Linked DNA regions of Homo sapiens: region 2 is linked to region 1. Evidence: fine-mapped expression QTL. Tissue or cell type: whole blood. Region 1 holds a variant in brackets; the other region holds the start of a gene. All regions are shown on one strand. Distances are from middle to middle.

The links. PIP is the estimated chance that this variant, and not a neighbour inherited with it, causes the effect.
Region 2: KIRREL3 starts here. The variant in region 1 is fine-mapped to the expression of KIRREL3 in whole blood (TOPMed, PIP above 0.99). The same link has a PIP of 0.9 or more in blood mononuclear cells.

The regions. Positions count from the first base shown.
Region 1 is chr11:126,439,391-126,447,494 of GRCh38, reverse strand. It overlaps KIRREL3 (kirre like nephrin family adhesion molecule 3), which reads left to right. Exons shown (of 17, transcript NM_032531.4): 9 at 609-736; 10 at 2,390-2,516; 11 at 6,946-7,046. Among named protein-coding and RNA genes, the nearest start is that of ST3GAL4, 88 kb to the right of the region's middle. RefSeq lists enhancers at 52-620, 1,734-2,287, 2,288-2,841, 4,264-4,946. The variant T/C (reference allele first, on the strand shown) is at 3,682.
Region 2 is chr11:126,995,854-127,003,957 of GRCh38, reverse strand. It overlaps KIRREL3 (kirre like nephrin family adhesion molecule 3), which reads left to right and starts at 3,188. Exons shown (of 17, transcript NM_032531.4): 1 at 3,188-3,503. The coding sequence starts at 3,449. It overlaps KIRREL3-AS3 (KIRREL3 antisense RNA 3), which reads right to left and starts at 1,048. Exons shown (of 3, transcript NR_040078.1): 1 at 1-1,048.

The DNA.
Region 1 (8,104 bases):
AGAGCACCGGGTGGGAAACCCTGGGGGAGGAGGCGTGGGTCACGAGAGCCCTGCCTCCATCACCCTGCATCTCAGAGCCCCCATCCCACCCCAGAGGTGCACCAGTCACTCGATTCCAGGTCATGAAGGCTGAGGCTGGAGGAGATGGCAGCTAGCTTGAAGGCAGAGGCATGAAGATCCCAAGAGCCCAGATTTCCAGGGCAGGAGGAGGGCCCCTGCCCGCCACTGGGATGGAGGGGCTTCCGCAGCTTTCTAGCACCGGGCGTGATCCAGACAGAGGGAAGGGGATGAGAGCCGTGGGGGTAAATCCAGGCAGAACCTGGTCCCCAGCACCTTCTTCCCAGGCCCCACGCTGCCGACCACCTCCATGGGCCCAAGAGAGGCGAAGCCTCAGGGAGAGTGGTCTCCTCCTTGCTTCCTGAGTCCCACTCCCAGATCCCAGACCCCGCCCGGACATAAGACTTAAAATGGAAGCGACTGAGGTGGCACAAGTACCCCACTGCCTGCCTCCCCCCAGTCAAGGTCTAGGGGGAAAAGGAGGCAGCAGCAAGGAGGATCCCAGAGCTCCCCACCCACCTGAACCTGTCTTCTTCTTCCTCACATCGCAGTTGGGCCCCGGATGACCACAGAACCCCAATCCTTGCTCGTGGATCTGGGCTCTGATGCCATCTTCAGCTGCGCCTGGACCGGCAACCCATCCCTGACCATCGTCTGGATGAAGCGGGGCTCCGGAGTGGTGAGGCTGCAGCTCAGACCTCGGGGCACCTCTGGCAGGGGGCGGGGACAGTGGAGCAAGAAGGAACTGCTGCCCAGGCCCCTCTCACTATTAGACTGGGGGAGTCAGCCTCCAGTGTAAGCCACAGGGAGAAAGATCCCAGAAAGAGGAGGGGGAACCCAGGCACCCCCATGTGCCTGTCCCACCCTGAGCACATTCAGCCATTGCACTCTTGCCCTGTCCTAAACCTTACAAGAAAAGTAGGTGGTCACCAATGTGCTGGGAGGGAAGGCACTAGAAAGGCTTTTCAAGTGGGCACAGTGGCACACACCTGTAGTCCCAGCTACTCAGGAGGCTGAGGTGGAAGGATCACATGAGCTCAAGAGTTTAAGTCCAGCCTGGGCAACGTAGCAAGACCTTGGGGAAAAAAAAGAAGAAGAAAGGAAAGAAAGAAAGGAAGAAAGGAAGAGAGAGAGAGAAAGAAAGAAAGAAAGGAGAAAGAAAAGAAAGAGAGAGAAAGAAAAGAAAGAGAAAGAAAGAGCCTTTTAAACTTCCCCCAAATAAAGCCACCGTTAGCCTTGGACTTGGGCTTCACTTTCCTGTGTTCCATTTTTTTTTTTTTTTTTTTTTTGAGATGGAGTTTTGCGCTTGTTGCCCAGGCTGGAGTGCAGCGGCGTGATCTTGGCTTACCACAAACTCCGCCTCCCGGGTTCAAGTAATTCTCCTGCCTCAGCCTCCTGAGTAGCTGGGACTATGGGTATGGGCCACCACGCCCAGCTAATTTTGTATTTTTAGTAGAGACAGGGTTTCTCCATGTTGGTCACACTAGTCTCAAACTCCCAACCTCAGGTGATCCGCCCACCTCGGCCTCCCAAAGTGCTGGGATTACAGGCGTGAGCCACCGTGTCCAGCCCTTGTGTTCCTCTTTTAAGACGTATATATTCTTCAGTGCATAAGAGATTGTCAGATGTCCTCACATAGGAAGGAACAGGGAGAGCTCCAGGTAGGGAAGCAGGGGGACCAGAAGGAAACCGACCTTTGTGTGGCCTGTTATGTAGCAGACGCTGCATTATCCTAGCAGCCTCCATACATAGAAAGGGAGCGTCTGAGAAGATAAGTAACTGACCAAAGAGACACAGGTGTTCACTGCTGGAGCCGGGATTCGAACGCAGACCAAGCTCATGCCAGAGCCTGTTTTCATCACTCCAAGCTATATCCCAAAGGGATCCTGAAAATGACTCTGAAAACAGGTCCAGGAGCCCCCAGAGAAGTTCAGCTGTAGGATCATGTCACCCATGGCTAGCCTGGGAGAGGAGAAGCCACCGCAGGTACAGGGAGGTTCCTGTAGGAGGAAACCTGGAAGTCCCCAGGCAGGCATCCCCCTCCTCCGGCACATGTGCCCCCACATGCCCCCAGCCCACAGGGCTGCGCCTGGGATGTAACATCCTCAGTCACACGGGGTGGCCTCTCTGCTGGTACAGTCTCCTCTGTACAGCCCACAGGCATTGTCTGGGCCAGGAAACTTTTGGCCTCTTTCCTCCCCACCTTGCTTCCTACTGAGATGCCGGAGACTGCCTCAGTTACCCCAGGCCAGCCTCTCAGCTGCCTTGTTCCCAGAGACAAGAGTGCACCCCTCCGCCTGCTCTTGGCATCTGAGCCTGCCAATTCTCCTAGGTCCTGAGCAATGAGAAGACCCTGACCCTCAAATCCGTGCGCCAGGAGGACGCGGGCAAGTACGTGTGCCGGGCTGTGGTGCCCCGTGTGGGAGCCGGGGAGAGAGAGGTGACCCTGACCGTCAATGGTAAGACCCTCGCTGGGGTGAGCCAGGCCTGAGGGAGGGAAGAAGGACCTCAGGCATCTTGGCACCAGGCATAGCCCCAAAGGAGCTGTCGCTGGCTCTGGGCCTTGCTGTCACCTCCAACTATGGGTAGACAACAATTAGGTCCACCTCCTGGATTCCCCGTCAGACCCAGGCTGAGGGAGGAAGGGCCTGGGTAGTTTTCTAGTCACCTCTCTTTTTGTTTGTTAGCTTTGAAGGGGTCTCAGCCCTGAGAGTGGTGGGTGATGAATTTTATCCTGGCCAGGAAAAAAAGCATCAGAGGTCACTAGGTGGCCAACGTGTCCACCCTTTCATCCACTCACCATGGCCTTGGCCCGTGAGAATTTTTTGTTGGTTTTTTGCTTTTTGAGATGGAGTCTCGCTCTGTTGTCCAGACTGGAATGCAGTGGCACGATCTCAGCTCACTGCAACCTCACCTTCCTGAGTAGCTGGGACTACAGGCACGTGCCACTACGCCCAGCTAATTTTTGTATTTTTAGTAGAGACAGGGTTTCACCATTGTTGGTCTCCAACTCCTAACCTCAAGTGAGCCACCTGCCTCGGCCTCCCAAAGTGCTGGGATTATAGGCGTGAGCCACCTCTCCTGGCCCCATGAGAATTTAAGAGAGCATCTCTGCAGCTCCTGATCAGCCTCTTCCCAATGCGTGTGAGTCACCCAGCCAGGGAGCCCTGTCACCGTCTCCACGAGGCCACGTGTTCAGGGGCCCCCTTGAGGGCAGGGGGCATGTCTTATTATATATAATAAAAATAATTGCAGCAGGGGAGTATTTTCACGGTGGGAGTTAGTAGATGAATGACTGTTACATGAAATATGTAGGGACAAGGGCATCACACCAGGCCTGAATGATGGGGTGTAGACAGTCATGGAGAAGCTGAGACCTGGCTCAGGCCAGACCCAAGAAGGTTGTGGCACCAGGACGCAAATGCGGACGTCCCTGCCCTATCTGGTGCTTTGGCCACAGGCAAAAAGCAAAGCTGCCAGTTCGATTCCTCTGCCGTTTCCGAATGCTCCCCCCTCACCTCTGTCATGCCCACTGCCCTTTGGGAGGCCCCTGTTCCCACCATAGCCTGACTCAGATCAAAACCCCAAAGCTCTGGGACCCTGCAGGAACTGAACCACCAACAT[T/C]TGCAGGACATCTGGGTCCTGGCCCCAGAGCAGGGCCCTCCTGAGGTCTCCAAATTAGCTCGTGGGCTTCAGCTTCCTCTCTACCCAGAAAGCCACCTGCTGATGGCCTCATCTATTCTCCCCTTCGCTAGAAAACCAAAACCAGCTTGGTGTCTCCTCAGCCATACCTCTCTACTGTCTCCATTCACCAGCTCCCCCCACACTGCCCCGCATTTCCATTCCTCTCCCCCCACCCCAGAGTCGTGGCAGCCCCCAAGGGAGGCTGAGTCTACCCAGACCCCAGCACGTTCACAGCCACCTGTCCTGGCAGAGCCCTGAGTCGGAGCCCTCCTGCCTTTCCTGAGTGTCCCCAGGATGCCACCAATAAATTGGCACTGCAGGGCTAAAAATAACAGCATCTGATCGCGCCTCCGTATATCCATGGCAACACAGGCTGCAGCCTTTTCCTTTCAGCGCAGGTGTCTGACACTCGGCTCAGAGCTCCAGGCCCCAGTGAAATCAGCGGCCCTCCACACAGCCCGCGCCAGCCAGGGCACTCGGAAGTCAGGCTGTCTGTGCCTGCAGCCGGCTCTGCTCTGCTGGCCCTATGACCAGCCAGCCCGGGACCCTCACACTCACTCATGCACTCCAGGGCCCCCAAGCCTGGAGCATCAAATGAGCATTGGCGTTTCTGGGGAAAAGCAGGTGGATAAAGGAGGAGCTGACATCTGCTGTCACTTTAGACGTTCAGACATTTCCAAGGGAGATTTAAAGAGATTTCTTGAGGAGAGAATGCCCCCTGGGGAACACAGGCCGGGAGGGACATTTCTCTTGGACGGGGAGGGCACTGAAACCCGGGCCCTGGCGCTGACCAAGGTTGAATCTGCACTCTCCAGGTCTCTTTCTCTCCCCTCCTCTGCCTCCACCCCTGCCAGCACAAGCTCCCCGAGGCTTCCAGGCAGAGAAAAGCTGGAGGGATTGGAGGGAAGCAAAGAAGCTGCTTGTTTATTTCTTGACTAGGGTGGCCTCACACACCTGGAGGCAGGTGGATGAGTTCAGTGGCCCCGGAGGGGAGCGCACCAGACCTGCCAGGGGGCGAACTGTCTGCCCCTGCTTCTGCAGAGCAGGCAGAGGGAGGGGGGACGCCCAGTGGATGGGACCTGGGCATGGGCTGGAGGGAGCTGGTGATATGAAAGCATTCAAATGAGATCAGGTTTTTATCGCGACAAATCCCAGCCTTGGACAACTGCTGGCCAGCGCAGCAGTCCTTTGGGAAAGAAATTGGCACACACCTCAACCGATTTGGCTCAAATCAGGTATCTGCAGGAAGGGGAGAGAAATCTTACTAACCCTCACCCCATTTCCCTTTATCCTGGTTTTCATTTTCTTTTAAGAAGCAGATGCATTTGATGATGGCTTTTAGAATCATGAAAACCCCTCAGGGAATTCCTAGCTCCTGGGAAGCACAAGGAAAAGGTTTTGTGTGTGTGTGTGTGTGTGTGTGTGTGTGTGTGTGTGTGTTTTGTGTGTCTGTGCATGTTGGGTTTTTTGTTTTTTTTTTGTTTTTTTTTTTTGAGCTGGAGTCTCGCTCTGTCGCCCAGGCTGGAGTGCAGTGGCGCAATCTCGGCTCACTGCAACCTCCACCTCCCAGGTTCAAGCAATTCTCCTGCCTCAGCCTCCCAAGTAGGGAGGCTAAATAATAAATACTAAAAATTTTTGTATTTTTAGTACAGACGGGGTTTCACCATATTGGCCAGGCTGGTCTTGAACTCCTGACCTTGTGATCCACCCTCCTCAGCCTCCCAAAGTGCTAGGTTTCTAGGTGTGAGCCACCGCACCTGACCAGAAAAGGTTTTATATTATCATCACGTTTTAGTCCAGCAATAAAACAAAGCACCATCCGGTTCCTAAAACATCAATCTCCTCATCTCTTTGGGTCCTAGACCTGTTGGAGCTGAAGGATTTTTAGGAAGGAGGGCAGCGCTCAGCCCATTCTTAAAGCCATGGAGGGTCCCCCACGCCCACCTCACGCTGCCCCGAGCCCTTTTGCCTTCTCAAACTCAACAGAAGTCACTGGAGTGTCTACAGTACCTTTTCTCCCTTGGCTGAGAGCTACTCATAGAAATGCAAATCTGCTTTAATTAAGGTGGCTAATAAACAGCAATTATGTTTGCAGCAATTTTTGTTTTGTTCCTGCATAATTCTGTGTGTTCTCCAGATGCGTTGCTCCCGGCTGTCTTTCCTCTGGTATCTGCCATCTAAGTCCCAACTGTGACCCCAGGGATTGGAAAGGGAGCATGACAGTTTCCGTCCCTACTCCCATCCTTCAACCACCCAGCCCAGCCAGGAAGCCAGCAGAGCCCAGGCTAAGCTAGCTGCTCCTTCTTTTGTCTTTCACGGCCAGGCAGGCGTCACAGGGGAAAGACTTGGGTTAGGTAACAGGCGGAACTGGACAGGAGGCGCTGGGGAACAGGCTCCCCTCCACCAGGTGAACTCTCTTGGCTGTGCAATGTGGTGAATGAGACAGGCGCTCTCAGAACCTGACACCCATAAACATGTGCCACACTCTGTGATATGATAATATTGGGGTCAGTTTGGGAGCCATGGCCTCACTTGGGCAGTCTGGGTATGGACGTGGAGGCAGACAAGATGATGAACTGCAGGACCTCCTGAGACACAGGTGGGAGGAGGGCTGTGAACACGGCCAGCGCATGCATTCCCCCTGTCCGGGGTGATTCCCGCCCTAAGGAGAGGGACAGCAACCATTTCTTCCCGTTGGCCCGTCTGGCCGAGCAGCTCCCATTTGTTAGGCAAGGGCGCCCTCTACTGGATATCTGAGGAATGGCTCGCAGGGGTGCCGCTGGCTGAGGCGGGGGAGTCTTCCTTCATCTAGACACCTCCCCACCCCCTCTGCAGGCTTACCACCTCCTCCCTAAAGCTTTCCCCGTCCGCCAGATAGAATTATTCTCTCTCCTCTGAAGTCGGTTAGCACTTTATCTGCACCGCTCCTGTGGTACTAACACTCACCACCTTTTATTACAGTTATTTGTATCTTCTGGGGGTTCTGACTTAGAAGCATTCGCTCATGATCCCTTGAGAGGTTTATGACTGAATGCCTAATTTATCTCTGAGTCCTCTACCTTGCACTTTACCTTGCACATACAGGCCTTCGGCAAATGTTTGCTGAATGCTTGGATTAATGAATACACTTCTGAACCCACCCAAGAGGGCGCCAGCAGGGACGTGCCCTTCCCGGGTGCCTAATGGGACGCTGTTTCTCAACAGGACCCCCCATCATCTCCAGCACCCAGACCCAGCACGCCCTCCACGGCGAGAAGGGCCAGATCAAGTGCTTCATCCGGAGCACGCCGCCGCCGGACCGCATCGTGAGTGCTCCAGGGACGGCGGGCGGGGGCCGGGCCAGCAGCCCAACAGTCACTTTTGCCAATACCTGGGTGGCCAGCCAGGCGGTGCACACCTCCGAGGTTCCTCTTTCTTGCTGAGGAAAATTATACCTGCCTTGGCTGTCTTGGAAAAGCATCGTGAAGACACAATTGCAGGCCTTTCTCAGAACAGGCAGTGCTCTCCCAGGGTTCAGCTGCCATTCTGCTGAGCTCTGACATGAACGGCTCTGACCAAATTCCGCATCCTAAGGGCAGAGGGGCACACGAGGGTAGTGGAGAGAAAAGACAAGTGACTTCTTCTCTTCCTGGGCTCCAGGCCAGTCTTTAGCAAAATCTTAGAGCGCAGGTAATAGTTGGCAACCCCTTTCTGTGCCTCCTGGAGCCCTCCTTGCCAGGTCTCTGTGGCCTTTACTGTCCATGGTAGCCTGCCCTGTTGCCTATCAATCGTCCCCTCTAAAGTGACCATTCCATTCTCTCTCCCTTCCTCAAAGAACTTATCCCTGCAATGCAGCTAAGGCAACTGAGGAGTCCACCCTCAGCGCCTCCTACCAGCTATCTGCTTGGTTTTTTTGTTTGTGTGTTTTTTGGGTTTGTTTGTTTGTGTTTGTTTTTTGAGATGGAGTCTCGCTCTATCACCCAGGCTGGAGTGCAGTGACACAATCTCGGCTCACTGCAACCTCCACCTCCCAGTTCAAGCAATTCTCATGCCTCAGCGCCTCTTGAGTAGCTGGGATTACAGGCATCTGCCACCACACCTCGCTAATTTTTGTATTTTCAGTAGAGATGGGGTCTCACCATGTTGGTCAGGCTGGTCTCAAACTCCTGGGCTCAATCGATCCTCCTACCCCAGCCTCCCAAAGTGCTGGGATTACAGGCGTGAGCCACCATGCCCAGCCAGTATCTGCATTTTTTTAAAGGGAGGGTCTTACTGAGCAGGAGCCTCATGTCTGTAATCCCAGCACTTTGGAAGGCTGAGGTGGGAAGATCGACTGAGCCCAGGAGTTTGAGACCAGCCTGGGCAACATAGTGAGACCCTGTCT
Region 2 (8,104 bases), 560 kb before region 1:
CCCTCCTGTCACTTCTTGGCCAGCCAGCAGCAGAACCTGGGGCCGGCCGGCATCCTCTGTAGGCTCCCGCCTCCGCGAGGGTCTGGGTCACCCAGCTCCGGCTCGCCCCGCTGGCGGAGGTGGGGGGCGGGCCAGGGGCTCACAGGACCCAGCACTTGGCACCGGAGGCTTGGGGAGGGGGCTGGGGACTGATGGATTCGGCCTCCGGACTCCACGCCTGGCGAAGAAACGCTGGAGAGGATGCCACCTGCTGGCATCCCGCCGGCTTGCACGGTGGGCACAAGAGACCTGGAGCCAGCCTGGATGTGCAGAAACCCAGAATTCGGGCGGTTTTCCAAGTTGCTGGCTTTCGGCTGTCTCTGTAGGGCTGCCGCCTCCACCGACTGTCCAGAGACCCCTTCCCCCGCGCGCCGCCCCCGGACGCGAAGGCTTCCAGCAGGGGCGGCGGTCTCTCTCCTCTCCCCTCTTGCAGCGCACTCCGAGGTCTAGGGACTCTCCGCGCTTCTCCATCAGGTGGAGCCGTCGGCTCCTCGCCGCCTCCCTCCTCCTCCCTCCCCCGGAGCGAACCGCGCGCAGGCAGCCTTGCAGCGCCAGGAGGCTAACCGAGCCCCCGGAGGAGGTGAGGCCGCGGGCAGCCGGGCGGAGATGGCGGGGCCGCCGTCGAGGCTGGCGCCAGAGCCCGACCGGCTGTGGGTCCTGCAGGTACTGCTCGCGTTCTCTGCCCCACGTGGTGGCTGCTGAAGATTGCCGTGGGTTTTCCGGCACTCAGGCTTGATACGCCTCCTGGTCCTTTTAGAGGCGGGCAGCTCATCACTTAATCCAAGCTTTTTTTTTTTTCTTTCTTTCTGCGGGAGACCGGAGGTTACAGGGAGGGAGTAGAGGGGAGTGGAGAGGGGAACAGGCCCAGCTGGCTCGTTGGTGGGGGTGAGGGGGATGCCTGGAGCCAGTAAGGGGGCCATGAGGCCAGTGTTGGGGGCCAATGGGAGAGCGAAACAAGATCCTTCCAACCTGGATCTCCCAGGCCCCCCTCTTCTTTCCAAGAGTCAGTGCGAGTGTGGAGTGCAGACACCTGTACGTGTGCCTGATTATTGCGTATTGCACACTTCACTAGCCTTGTGACCCTGGTTTTGTAATAGTTCCCTCGGGGGCTGAATTAAGCAAATCTGGGCCCTGGGCCATTGAGGAATTAGCACTCAAAATTAAACAACAGCTTAAAGGATAAATCTTTAGTTAAAACGTCAAATGTTGCTACCTTTGATAGAGAATCTGCATTCTAGTATTTGTCCTATTCCCTGCAAGAATGGCACGCAGACACCTGAAATTTCTCCCCAACAACCCCATAGGCTTAATGCAAAGCTACTACTAAGGTGACGGCGCTATACATAGAGTTATTTTCAGTCTTACTGTGTTATTTGGCATATGTTATTTAAAATTATTTTTCATCTCCTCTGTGTGTTTTTGATTTGCCTCTTCCATTTATTGCATGATCTGTTACACCAGGCTAATGGACTCAGGCTCAGCTGACACTGCTTCAGTAACTTGTTTGTTAATTTAGCTAATGGGCTGCCTCTTTTGTGTCCTTTTAGTTTCTGTTGCTCAACATTTCTGTTTCTCCTCCCAAAGTTTGCTTACAAATTTCCCTTTGCTGTGTTTAACAGCCTCTAAGGGATGCAGTTAAATAAACTATTAAGTTAAGAATAGAAAAGTCAACAAAGCAGACACCTACTAATTTGTAGATCTTTGGTGTCAACTACCAGATGTCAGCTCCTACTAGCACACTTCTATATGCCCCTGCTTCTTTCTTTCTTGTTCACAAATACCAAGGGATAATTTTTTAAAGTTAACATCCGCATGGAAACTTGGAGTTGGAATGTGCCTTGTAGTGAGCAGAGTCCTCAAAAGATGTGCTACTACTGAAAGAGGAAAGGCTAAGAGTTTCCCAAAAGACCTCCCCAAGGTCCAGGGACTGAAGACAGTAATGACTGATTTTAGAATTGAATGCTAAATGGCACATGTCAGGGGAGCGTCTTTCATTTTCCTCTCCTCTCTCTTTACCTCTCCTTCTCACAGTGCATAACGTTGAATATTTTTCTGTGTTGTTTTGTTATGTCCTTAGAGTTTGCATCTTGTGTGTGTACTCTGCTTGCACACTAGATTATGAGCTTCTGAAGGCATGGTCTGTGCCTATTATTTTGCTTCCCTCCATGGCCTGCTTATACCAAGCATGCCTAAATGTCTATTAAGTAAATAGACCCAGATAAATTCATGTTGATATCCTGGAGGAAACCGAGTTTGATTTGAGTGTGGAGTGTGAATTTCATGACAGGTAAAAGGCTTGAAGATCCTTAGGACGCAGTTGTCTATGACCTTGGCCTCTCCTTTGCAATTGGACTCACAGCACCTCTTGGAGAAAAGACAGGCTCAGAGTGATGGAGCGCTCATTAGAGGAGAGGCTCTGAATGCAAAGACAGGCTGCTCCCCTGTCCTCGTTAGGAAATGCACAAACCAGGATAATGATAATAAATGGGTGTGTGTCACAAGCCTACTTGCCTTCCCTTTAGTTCCTGCATTTTGTCTTCCAGGAGCAGTGCAAAGCAAACTAAGATCCAAATGTTCAGGTTTTATTACCTACCCCCCCCCCCCACCACAACCACCCACCCACCCACAGGAAACTCTCAGAAATGCAAAGCATGCTTATCTCTTCTCCAACTCCGAGCCTCCCGCTGCACACATTGGCCAAGTCCTTCCGAGGGAAAGATGCGCACCCCCCCTTCCTAGTTCCCTTTCAGCCCAGTTTCCAGTTCCTTTGCAAAGGCAGGGCGTGCATGTTTTTGTGCACATGCATGTGGATAGTCATCCTTAACTTCACTGTTAAACAGGACATCGTGTGGACAAAAAGTCACAGCTCCACTCCAAGCTCAAGATGCCTTTTGGTCAATAATGGTGACAAAAGCTGAATTTTTCCCTATTTAGGGAAAAGAAAGAACACAGCCTTTTCCCCCACTGTCCGTTTTGCATAGATCTCCTTTTTCCGAGTGTTTCCTCTTTAATTATGACCTGTCTCCCCTCCCTCTCCCCTCGCCTCAGCTTCAGTGAAAGGAGTCCTTCTGTCACTCGTCACTAGCTCGCTCGCTCACTGTGGGAGGAGCCCGCCTGAGGAAGCCGTGTGCCTGGGATGCCAAGAGCCAGAGAATGGATCTTCTCCGAGTGGGGACATTGCTGACAATCCCGGCTTCCCGAGGCGGCTAAGAACAGGCAGTTTGTGTCGGCTGGCTGCAGATACCCAGAGGCACAAAGAGACCGAAGCCACCCGGAGGGACCCACGGACGGACAGATGGTAGGCGCGAACCCGAGAGGACCGGCGGAGGCTGAGCACCGAGAGCCGCCAAGGAAGAGAAACTAACCACAGCCAAGTTACCCCGCCGGCTTTCCTTCGCTGCGCTAAGGAATGAAACCCTTCCAGCTCGATCTGCTCTTCGTCTGCTTCTTCCTCTTCAGTCAAGGTAGGACCCCTGCGCTGCTGGAGTTGGAAGAAAGTCGGCTGGGTTGTCAGGGCGCGGGAGGCTGTGGGCAGGAACGTGGGCAGGCTTCGGGAACTCGGACTGATGGATGCGTCTCTCGGTGCCGGGCTGAGATGCTCTGGCATTGCCTCTTCGCCTTTGCGAATGCAACAAAATGGTACTGTTTATTTTCCTTTGGAAAGAAGGGGTATGGGAGGGGAGGGGAATGACTTTCTCCTCTCACTTGTCAATATCCAGCTCAAACTCTCCAATGCAAATGAGTTCTTTATGCTTCTGGTATGTTAATTAGGTAGTATCTCTGTGGTTATGCCGCTCTGAACTTCTGGGCACCTCCTCTCCTTCAGACCCAGGCCAGGGAAGGAGACGGCAGGGAGGGAGAGCTTGGTTTAGGTGGATATTTCAGCTTGAATAGGGTTTGACTTGCACAAGTGTATTCAAAAGCGAATGTGTGTGGTTTGCACCGTTGAAAAGGGGGTTGCAATTACAGAATGTATTGTGGGGGGTAATTTGCAGTGGTTGGGAAAAGCTTGTAAAGAGTTTCATTGAACGTCATCGAGTTCCCTAAATTAGGTTGAATTCTGAATCCTACACAGCACTGAATTCAGGGTATAAAATGAAATTTCGCCCGTGGTGCTGATGGTTTCCTTTCTGCAGCCTAGCAGGGGCAGAGAAGCAGGTGGACTCTCCGGAAAGAACTTTGCCACCTCTAGGCTCCTTGCCACTGGGAGCCCTGGGGCTGGTAGTGGTGCAGAAAGGAGAGGGAAATTCGGGAGAGGGAATGTGAGTGCCTAGTTGGCCAAAGGCATCAAAAGTCACCTGTGGAATTGAGTTTGGAGGGGCAAGTACATGGGCTCCTTCCCGCTCTTTTGGAATGCCAATGCACCTCTGCCATCTGAGGCTGCATTTGTGCCAGCCAACACAGCTCTTAGAGGTGCAAGACTCAGAAAAAATCCACAACAGAGCACGTCCATCTGTTGATTAAATGAAGGGTAAAAGTTTTCGAGAAAGCAAAGCACTGCCATGGGTGGCTGGCTTTGCAAGCAAACAGCATGTCTTCTGTTTCTCCCCTGTCGGGGAGAAGCCAAATATAAGCAAAAACCTGGCTTCCTTCTTCTGCTCTTCCACCCGTGCTTGTGGTCACTGCAGACTTTCTCCTTATCTGTGCAGTTCAAACTTTGCTTCTGGTCCTCCTGATGAAACCGAAGGGGCTCCTTCTTCATATTTGTATGTGCATACTAATGCCTGTGTATAATGATAATGTATGTACACACACACACACACACACACTCATGTATTCATATGGTTGTGTGCTTCTCACCAAGGCTCCCTACAGCAGCAGGAAGATAAATTGCCTTCCCCAGAGTTTCAGGCTGAATGAATAAGAACTCTCTCAGAACACTGGTATAGAGACAGGTTCAGTTATATTACCATTTGGTAAGATTACCCTCTTTCTTGGATGTGTATGTGCTTGCTTATGAGCACACACACACACACACACACACACACACACACACACACACTCCCATTCGTCTTTGCTTCTTACCAGTTCACTCAGGAAGTTTTGATATAGAACCCCTGAGAAGGAGGGAATCTTCCAACCAACCCCCCGTAAACACACAAACTCACATTTGCATGGGACCAGTGCATGCTTTAATCAGCCTTTTGTGTAGTTAGAAGCTTGATCCGTGATACTTATGTAGATTGGCATAAGAAGGCTATAGGTGTCTAAGTACCTCCCTGGCCGTCTGAATCATTACAGTGTACATCTTCTGTTGTGCTTATTTCTTTCTTGGTCTGGAGCTGTTTCTTGACTGCTTCATGTGAATCTTTAAATATTTACCTATGGAGGTTAAATGCTCTGTTTTATCTACCCCGAGTCCTGAGAGCGCTAGGAAGAAACCATAACATCATGCAGTTCTTAATGCCTTGTGCTCCTGGAGTGTTCTGAGCTTGGCCATCACTGTCCACCCTACCAAATGGTAGATACCTGGTCCAGAGGCTGGAAAACAGGTCTAAACAAAAATGAGGAGACCCAAGTGGACATGGCTGGTCAGATACCCTGCATCCCTGTACATGGTGTGCTTCTTGAATAGACAGTGTCCGACTATGGGAATCAAGGGGTCCAGCCATCAAGTGGGAAGGTGTTTTATGGACTTCACTGCAATGTGATATGGTTATCTTTTGCCTTGATCTGTGGAAATTTGTTTATGTGGATGTTGTTTTGAGCATTATGAATTCCCCAGAGGATTCTATTTGACCATCCTCACATATATGCTTAGCTCATGTACTGTGCCCCACCTCTACCCAGTGTCATGCATTCATCAACTTATTGGATAGAACGCATCCATGTCTAACAGGTCCTGGGAGGTCTAGCCCACATGGCTCTAAATGGCTCCACTGTGATCCCCCAGAATGAGGCCTGAGGTTACACCCCCCCACCCGGCACCCTCACACAGCCACCTGCTTGACCCCTGCCTCCTGCATGCTGGGATGCCTCTCCCAGGAAATGTGAAGAGACCCAGGGGATGGCCTTTCCCTCAGAGACAACAAATGTCCAGGGTTGTTTTTAGTGCCTTATCTGGCACTCCGATGACATGGCCATCTGCTGTCCAACACATCTCACAGTGGGAATCTGCATGGCACTTAGGAGTTTCTGGGAACAAGATTCCCAAGCTCCATGCTCCCAGTATCTTGGTCCCCGTGCAGAGAGAGTGCTCCAAGCAGTGCTCTCAAGATACAAATAAACTCTTAAAGTCCGTTCCAGCCATCCTTTTCTTCCTAATTTGTCAAATGTTTGTTTACCTTTACTTTTTCTTATAACCTTTTAGAGAGACAGAGAACAGAAATCAATGTATAATTAATATCAGTAATATGGTGGGTCCCTATTCTTTGAAAGTTTGGGCTTTTCATGTAGATTGAGATCAAGTATTTCTTTATCTTTCTTAAGGTGGCAGTAGTAAGGCTAAATAACATTCCTCCCGATTCCACCCCCGCCAGAGTCCCCAGGCCTGGCTCCCAACAAGGGAATGGAGAGCTGCCAGTGTGTACTGCTTGTGGGCTTCTCCCTTGCCGTGGATGCCTCTTCCCTCAGCTGTCAGGACGGTCATGCTTTGTTCAGAGAGGGATAATGTCACAGCACAATTTGCCTCCTGCTGAGAATAGACATGTTCTGCCCCTGGGTGAAAAAATAATCGATTCTTTTGTCATCCATAAACTTAGAACTTGCTATATTTTTTCCTCTTTATCATTTCAGTTCACCCACAACTATTTCCTTCTGTGCCCTCCTTAAGCTTCAAGCCCCATCCCATCCAGCCTGCACATGCACAGCTTAGGTAGCTTGGAGGGAATAAGGTCCTAGAGGACTGATGACTCCCTGCCTCCAGGGAGATCTCTGATCTCCACCTCGGAGACAGGGGAGATAGACAGGGGAGCCACAGTGGCAAGAACTTGGCGCCTTCTACTCCAGACACTCGCTCTTAAGAAAGGTGGTCTCTTCCCTACTCTCTGGCATTTTGCTCTGGCATTCCTAGAGCGTCCTGTCCTGCCTTGTGATTCTGTGGTTGTGAAGGTTCTAATTCTGCTGAACCCAGATCTTTTGGCTTTGCATGCACACTGTACTGTATTGGGGTAAAAGTGAAAACTTGCATTTACCTGTTAATGGCATCCCTGAGCTAAGGATGCATTTGAGGTACCATCTCCCTACTGGGAAGAATCTAAGCAGCCCACTTGCTCTCCTGCCTGGCTGGAAACACCAAAAGGGGCTGTCAGCAGCTGTCAGAGGGCAGAGGGTCATGGTGATCTGAATCTCCTAGGGAATAGAAAGGCATCTCGTAGACAGAAGGGTAAAATAGAGTGAACAGAGGGAGCCAGCCAGGGTGAAGGGAGCCATGGAGATGACAAGAAGCATGGAAAAGGAGGAGCCACTTCAAGAGGCTTGAACTAGCAAGGAGTTCCCTTGGGAGGGGCAGGGTTGGGGAGGCATCGGAAGAGAGCCTGAACACATCAGAGGTGGCCTAAAGAATGGAGGGATCATAGGGGGTACAGGCAGAGAAGGAATCAGCAAACAAAGTGGGGAGTGAACAGCAACTTTGGAAACACTTACACTCACTCAGAAATGTCATAAAACAAAAGATGAGGGAAGTAATGTGTGTTTCTCCCTCCTACCAGAACCCCATGTGGGATGACGTCTTGTCTAGAGGAAGAAGAATCAGTTCTTTTGTGCCAGAAGGTCAATACACAGCTGCCAAGGGTGTGGGACCACTTCTTTAACAAATCTTCGGGTGGGGAAACTGGGGCATGTCTGTTGGAAATGGGGGTGGTTGCATGTCTGTATCCCAGTAGGGAGTCCTCAGTTGCCAGCCAGACCTATTGAGGATGGAAAAGAAAGTCCCTAGGGGGAGGACGAGTGGGGTGGGGTCAAGGCCTTCACATTGCTCTAAGAGGATACCATGGGGTCCCCCTCTTGGGTGTACAGAGGAGGATTTGGCTTGGAACAGGCAGCGGCAAGCTAGGCATGGTACCAAGAAGCAGCCCTGCCTGGTGTGTGCCTGTGTTGGTGGAAGCCAGGGCCAGCAGGAGATGGG